Linked DNA regions of Homo sapiens. The protein of the gene in region 1 interacts with the protein of each later gene in a pairwise test. Each region holds a gene or a part of one and is shown in the gene's direction. Other genes may lie near its edges.

Region 1 (3,824 bases):
GAATCCAACTTTTAAAAACGGCCTCATTCCATACCTGAGTCAGGCTGCTCTCTGGCTCGCTCGCTCTCCTCTCTAACAAGAGTTATGTGTTCTTTCTGTTCTAGTATCAAAAAAGGTGATAACAAGGGAGTCATTTACAAGCCAGCCACCAAGATGGAGACTGAGGCCCACGCTTGAGGTCCCCGGAGCTCCCGGGCACATCCAGGAAGGACCTTGCTTTGGACCCTACACACTTCGGCTCTCTGGACACTTGCGACACCTCAAGGTGTTCTCTGTAGCTCAATCTGCAAACATGCCAGGCCTCAGGGATCCTCTGCTGGGTGCCTCCTTGCCTTGGGACCATGGCCACCCCAGAGCCATCCGATCGATGGATGGGATGCACTCTCAGACCAAGCAGCAGGAATTCAAAGCTGCTTGCTGTAACTGTGTGAGATTGTGAAGTGGTCTGAATTCTGGAATCACAAACCAAGCCATGCTGGTGGGCCATTAATGGTTGGAAAACACTTTCATCCGGGGCTTTGCCAGAGCGTGCTTTCAAGTGTCCTGGAAATTCTGCTGCTTCTCCAAGCTTTCAGACAAGAATGTGCACTCTCTGCTTAGGTTTTGCTTGGGAAACTCAACTTCTTTCCTCTGGAGACGGGGCATCTCCCTCTGATTTCCTTCTGCTATGACAAAACCTTTAATCTGCACCTTACAACTCGGGGACAAATGGGGACAGGAAGGATCAAGTTGTAGAGAGAAAAAGAAAACAAGAGATATACATTGTGATATATTAGGGACACTTTCACAGTCCTGTCCTCTGGATCACAGACACTGCACAGACCTTAGGGAATGGCAGGTTCAAGTTCCACTTCTTGGTGGGGATGAGAAGGGAGAGAGAGCTAGAGGGACAAAGAGAATGAGAAGACATGGATGATCTGGGAGAGTCTCACTTTGGAATCAGAATTGGAATCACATTCTGTTTATCAAGCCATAATGTAAGGACAGAATAATACAATATTAAGTCCAAATCCAACCTCCTGTCAGTGGAGCAGTTATGTTTTATACTCTACAGATTTTACAAATAATGAGGCTGTTCCTTGAAAATGTGTTGTTGCTGTGTCCTGGAGGAGACATGAGTTCCGAGATGACCCAATCTGCCTTTGAATCTGGAGGAAATAGGCAGAAACAAAATGACTGTAGAACTTATTCTCTGTAGGCCAAATTTCATTTCAGCCACTTCTGCAGGATCCCTACTGCCAACCTGGAATGGAGACTTTTATCTACTTCTCTCTCTCTGAAGATGTCAAATCGTGGTTTAGATCAAATATATTTCAAGCTATAAAAGCAGGAGGTTATCTGTGCAGGGGGCTGGCATCATGTATTTAGGGGCAAGTAATAATGGAATGCTACTAAGATACTCCATATTCTTCCCCGAATCACACAGACAGTTTCTGACAGGCGCAACTCCTCCATTTTCCTCCCGCAGGTGAGAACCCTGTGGAGATGAGTCAGTGCCATGACTGAGAAGGAACCGACCCCTAGTTGAGAGCACCTTGCAGTTCCCCGAGAACTTTCTGATTCACAGTCTCATTTTGACAGCATGAAATGTCCTCTTGAAGCATAGCTTTTTAAATATCTTTTTCCTTCTACTCCTCCCTCTGACTCTAAGAATTCTCTCTTCTGGAATCGCTTGAACCCAGGAGGCGGAGGTTGCAGTAAGCCAAGGTCATGCCACTGCACTCTAGCCTGGGTGACAGAGCGAGACTCCATCTCAAAAAAAAAAAAAAAAAAATTATTCTGTACCATCACAACTTTTCACAACGATGGCAAGCCTTATGTCTTGGGAGCCTGTTTTGCTAGGCAAAGTTACAAGTGACCTAATGGGAGCTCAAATGTGTGTGTGTCTCTCTGTGTGTTTGTGTGTGTGTGTGCACTCAAGACCTCTAACAGCCTCGAAGCCTGGGGTGGCATCCCGGCCTTGCCATTAGCATGCCTCATGCATCATCAGATGACAAGGACAACCCTCATGACGAAGCAACATGAATTAGGGGGCCTCTTGGCCTTGGTCCAAAATTGTCAATCAGAAATGAACATAAAGGACTCCAGAGCAGTGGGACTGTCTGTCAAAAGACTCTGTATATCTTTTGTGGATGAGTTTTGTGAGAGAACAGAGAGACCATTGTACCTGGCACAAGGGCTGTTCATGAAAAGGGAGACTTACTGGGAGGTGCAAGACAGTGGCATTTCTCCTCTCCTCTTGCTGCTCAGCACAGCCCTGGATTGCAGCCCCGAGGCTGAGACCAGACAAAGCCCGGGAGGCAGAAAGATGCTCCAAGAACCAACACTATCAATGTCTTTGCAAATCCTCACAGGATTCCTGTGGGTCCAGCTTTGGAACTGGGAAACCTTTCTTCGGATCCGCACTCATTCCACTGATGCCAGCTGCCCCTGAAGGATGCCAGTACTGTGGTGTGTGAGTCTCAGCAGCCGCCCACACGCTCCTAACTCTGCTGCATGGCAGATGCCTAGGTGGAAATAGCAAAAACAAGGCCCAGGCTGGGGCCAGGGCCAGAGGGGAAGGCCCTGGATTCTCACTCATGTGAGATCTTGAATCTCTTTCTTTGTTCTGTTTGTTTAGTTAGTATCATCTGGTAAAATAGTTAAAAAACAACAAAAAACTCTGTATCTGTTTCTAGCATGTGCTGCATTGACTCTATTAATCACATTTCAAATTCACCCTACATTCCTCTCCTCTTCACTAGCCTCTCTGAAGGTGTCCTGGCCAGCCCTGGAGAAGCACTGGTGTCTGCAGCACCCCTCAGTTCCTGTGCCTCAGCCCACAGGCCACTGTGATAATGGTCTGTTTAGCACTTCTGTATTTATTGTAAGAATGATTATAATGAAGATACACACTGTAACTACAAGAAATTATAAATGTTTTTCACATCAGGCTGTTCTTTTTTTTTTTTTGGAGGCGAGGTTAAAGCATTACTATTTGCAAAGCACTCTGTAGCTCCCTGTTATGGGGATAGGTAACTAATCAGAATAATAATGTCACTCGCATCCACTTCTTAGAACCTGGCTCCAAAGGAAAATAAGCTGATAGACTCAATCACTTTCCTGAGGATGGAGGCCTATGGCATGTGTGGCTGCAGGTCGCGAAGCTGCTTAATGGTGCTGGGAAGCCTAGAGGAATTAAATAAAGACCCTGGAGGAGGTGGGATCGGAGCTGCACCTTGAACAAATAGCTCAGATTTGAACAGATGGATGGAAAAGAGGGAGGTGTTCCCAACCAAGGGGACATGATACAGGGAACAGGTCCTATGTCTCTTTACTCCTGAGAGTATTAAACCTAGTAGGTGGGCAGCCCCTCTTGGTTGCCTGTTACCTTATTTTGAATTCTTTTTGCAAAACATACTATCACCCGTCCAAATAATCTTTTGTCTAAATCCAGACTTCACATTCTGACTGGGGCAAAAAGAGGCAGTCCAGTAAAGGTTATAAAATAGGTACCATCATTGTTTGCCTTATTTAGAAAAGCATCCAATTTTCACTATAATCACCCTAAGCCTGAGAGAGGTGAACTGTTCAAGGGTACTTTGGCTCCAGTGGGTGACAGTACCTGGCCCAGCTTTGGAATTGAAACATTTCTGATGGTCTGTACTCTGCTAGAACACAGGATGCTTCTGCTCTCCCTGCTCTGGCATCCTGCCAGGTGTCATGGCCACGCACAGGCATGAAGACAGCCGGGAAGCCAGAGTTCCCACGAAGCACTCACTCCTTGGACTTGCTCCCACCCCACTGGGGAGAGCACTCCTGGAGCAGGAAATGAGCATCTCTCA
Region 2 (3,824 bases), on another chromosome or scaffold:
CCTATACACATAGCCTGAAGGCAATTTTATGCAATATTTTAAAGAATTTTCTGCATGAAACAAAGTTTCAAATGCACCCCATCACACAAGGTCAGGTGTGGAATTTTCCACTTGTGGCATCACGTCAGTGCTCAAAATGTTTCAGATTTTGGAGCACTTCAGATTTTGGACTTTGGGATTAGGGATGCTCAACCTGTATTACACTAAATTCGTTTCAATTCATTATTATTCTTTTTTACTGGAAAAAGCATTGAGTGCTTGCTGGCTTTGTAACAGGCACATGCTAATGCTGTCCAGAGGGCTTCATAACCACGAGATATAGTGCAGTTATTTCAAATGTTGACCTAATTTTTCTAAAGTTACACATGTGGAGTAGAATATCAAATGGTTTATTTACACATTATATTTTGCTAAAAATATGCTATCATCTGTAGTGTGGAAATAGATGACATTATTAGAACAGATTCATTTACCTTATCTAGCATTAATTTCTGCTCTGTAATTATAAAGGAGTTTTACACTGAAAAGCTGTTTTTGATGAATTACTATTCCTTCCATATAACTTGAAAGAAACTCATCACTTGTTTTAACAGACAGCATGAGTATCTATGACGATATTGATGCTGACGTGCTGCAAAATTACCAAGAATACAATCTGGCCAACATCATCTACTACTCTCTGAAGGAGTCCACCACTAGTGAGCAGAGTGCCAGGATGACAGCCATGGACAATGCCAGCAAGAATGCTTGTAAGTACACAGTATGGACAGTGCCAGCAGGAGTGCTTGTGAGCACACAGTGAATCTCAGCTGAGAGGAGTCCGTGGCCGAGAGTAGCATCAACAACATTAACATGATATTCCTGTACCTGTAAGAAAGTATATCTTGATAGGTAGTTGATTTGCAAGTACTGTGAAAAGGTATCCTATGGAAGATGTAAAAATATCTTCATAACATTATTTGAGAGGCCAATTTTGGTATCCAAAAATTTCTTACTTTTAAATTAAGCAACAGAAGTTAGTTAACAAGTTATTCTACTCTAGTTTCAGATTTTTTATGTAGTGTTTTTGTTTTGTTTGTAGCTGAGATGATTGACAAATTGACATTGACATTCAACCGTACCCGCCAAGCTGTCATCACAAAAGAGTTGATTGAAATTATCTCTGGTGCTGCAGCTCTGTGAGTAATTGTAGATTGTCGCCTTCAGAGAATTTTTTTTCCTCTTGCTGTGTCTGCTTGTTTGGATGCTTAAAAGTTTTTCGTTTTTTTCTTTTGAAGTTGAAACTCATTGCTGAAACTTGCATCCTAACTCTTAGGCTATAAAGATGTGGTAAAAATGGGACCTCTTTGCTTTATTTTTATTGTTTCAGCTGGAAACACTCGGGCTTAGTTTTCGGTTTTCTAAAGGATTAGGAATGGGATGTGGATAATTCAGTATCATTTATGAAATCTTTTTTTGGAATTTAAACAATTGTAAGCCAAGCTTTCTGAGTTACAGGGCTAGTTTCAGATTTGGTTTTACATAAATCTATAAACCATTGCATGTTGGGAAGGTCCAGGAATTTTTTAATCATTATGTTTTTTAATCATTATGTTTTCTATATCAGTACCAAAAGATAGTATAGCCATCCCTCAGTATCTGCAGTGGATTGGTTCCAGTACTCACTCTCACCTCCCCCAGGATACCAAAATCTGAAGATCCTCAAGTCCCTGAAATAAAATAGCACAGTACTACATATAAAAAATGCACATCCTCTCGTATACTTTTAATCATCTCTAGTTATAATGCTATGTAAATTGTTGTTGTATTGGTTTTTGTTTTTATTATTTTATCATTATTTTTGTCTTTTTTCCAAATATTTTACATCGGCTGTTGGTTGAATCCATGGATACTGAGGGCCAACTATATACTGCTTTCCTCAAGAAAATTTCTTAGTTGTTGAAAAACTTTAATGTTTATGAAAAAAAGGTTAAGATAATGGGAATTTTATTCAAAAAGTTATTAAGTTGAATACCCACTATGTGCACAGTACAGTGCTAGACACAGTGTTAAGGATGTGATTCTCTCTTTTAAGGCACTTATATTCTAATAGGATAAGAAACATACAAGTAATTGTGATTAGATAAAACGTGTAGTAAGTTCTTTTTGACTCGTTCCTTCTTACCTCCTGCTAATCAGTTACCATGCTCTTTAAGTTTTACCTTCTAACTATCTCTTGAATCTTCCCCCTTCTTTATGCCCACTTAATGCAGATCCTTGTCATTTCTCTCCTGGGTTCAAAAAGGTAATTATTTGAGTGCCCCTTAAGTGTCAGGCCCTGTGCTAGACACTGAGGATACAGTGGTAACAGTATTTGCCTTCAGAGAGCTCAGTCTTCACAGTAAAGGCAGACACTAAATAAGAAGTCACAGCAGAACAGAGGTTGCTAAACTGTGGCCTGGAGCTAAGAATGGGTTCTGCATTTTTAAAGGGATATAAGAAAAAGGAGAGTGATAGCGTGTGACCCACAGAGTGCAGAATACTTGCTGTGTGGCCCTTCACCGAAAAAATTTGCCTATTCTTGTGACAGTGTTATGAGGAAAATAACAAAATCCATTCTCTGTTATACACTCATTCTGCAGAAACACTCGATGTATGTGATCCTATATTTTCTGGTCACCAGCACTCTTCCCAGTCCAGTCTCTTACCATTACCATTTCTCACGTCCTTGAACCTCAGCCACCTTGATCTACTTCCAGATCTACAGATTCGTCACTCTTTCTCGCGGCCAGGGAGTGGCATGTGCTGCAGCCTGAAAAGCCACTATTTCTTCCCTTGCTCCCTTGATTCTTCATCTGACTGCCTCCTGTGTATCCTTCCTTACTCAGCTGGGGGAATCCTTTCTTCCAGAAAACACTCCTTCCTTCAGTCTGAGTGAGGCAGCCTTCTGCAGCATCCTGTCTTCCATTTAGCTTAGCTCTTACAGCCTTGTATGAGGAATTGGCTTTTTATTTGTCTGTGTGCTCCTCGAGGCTAGGATGGGACCATATCTTATTCACTTTTGTGTCCCCATTGCCTGGTACATACCTCCTTCGTGAATGTTGAATGAATGAATGAAATGCCATATGTATTCAGAACTGGAAGTTCAGAAGAGGGACAAATAACATTTTATTGGGTGTATGAAAATGTGGGTCCATGGTTTTAAGAGTCAGGGAAAAGTTCATCACTATTTAAAGTGTTCCTTAAGTGTTACTTTTCAAGGGCAGAAACTGGGCAGAATGCCAGAGAGACACAACTAGAACTTTTTGAGCCAACAGAGACCTTTGTGTAAGTTGTTAGTTGGATCCATCAGCCTCGCTATCCTAAGCATTCTTCTCTTATTTTACTTTCTAAGCACAGCTGTGTTAGGACTAACCCATTCACAGCCTGGTCACCAATGTTCTATCAGCATCACAGAATACTGTCTCATGGTGTCTAGCTTGATGAACTTGGTTAGGATACTCTCTCTGTTACTCAGCTTTGTCATCTGTAACATGGGGACTAATACAAGGACTAAAACCTTCTATTAGCCATTATCCTTCTTGCCATCTACCCCATGTTAAAGCCAGGCTGATTTGTTCTTGGATCTTAAGTGTGACAAAGCCTGCGGGAAGGAACCACATTCTGAAGGTTTGTGGGCTGTGTGAGATCCAGAGAACCCAAGGGGGTTTTTTTGCTCTTGACAAACGAATGTTAGGTATGACCTATGATGATACAACTTCTGCAAAATTGAGGACCAGCCTATTTCTTCATTAGAAATGCAGGAAACCTGGCCGGGCGCAGGGGCTGACGCCTGTAATCTCAGC

What was found.
Region 2: the proteins of CA12 (region 1) and ATP5F1C interact in a two-hybrid assay, tested with the Homo sapiens proteins (one large-scale study listed by BioGRID and IntAct).

What each region holds. Positions count from the first base shown.
Region 1 is NC_000015.10:63,322,638-63,326,461, reverse strand, and holds part of CA12 (carbonic anhydrase 12 isoform 1 precursor), read left to right. Parts: intron 1-104; coding exon 105-177; 3' UTR 178-3,824. UniProt on the Homo sapiens protein: Reversible hydration of carbon dioxide.
Region 2 is NC_000010.11:7,801,677-7,805,500, forward strand, and holds part of ATP5F1C (ATP synthase F(1) complex subunit gamma, mitochondrial isoform L (liver) precursor), read left to right. Parts: intron 1-593; coding exon 594-749; intron 750-1,081; coding exon 1,082-1,178; intron 1,179-3,824.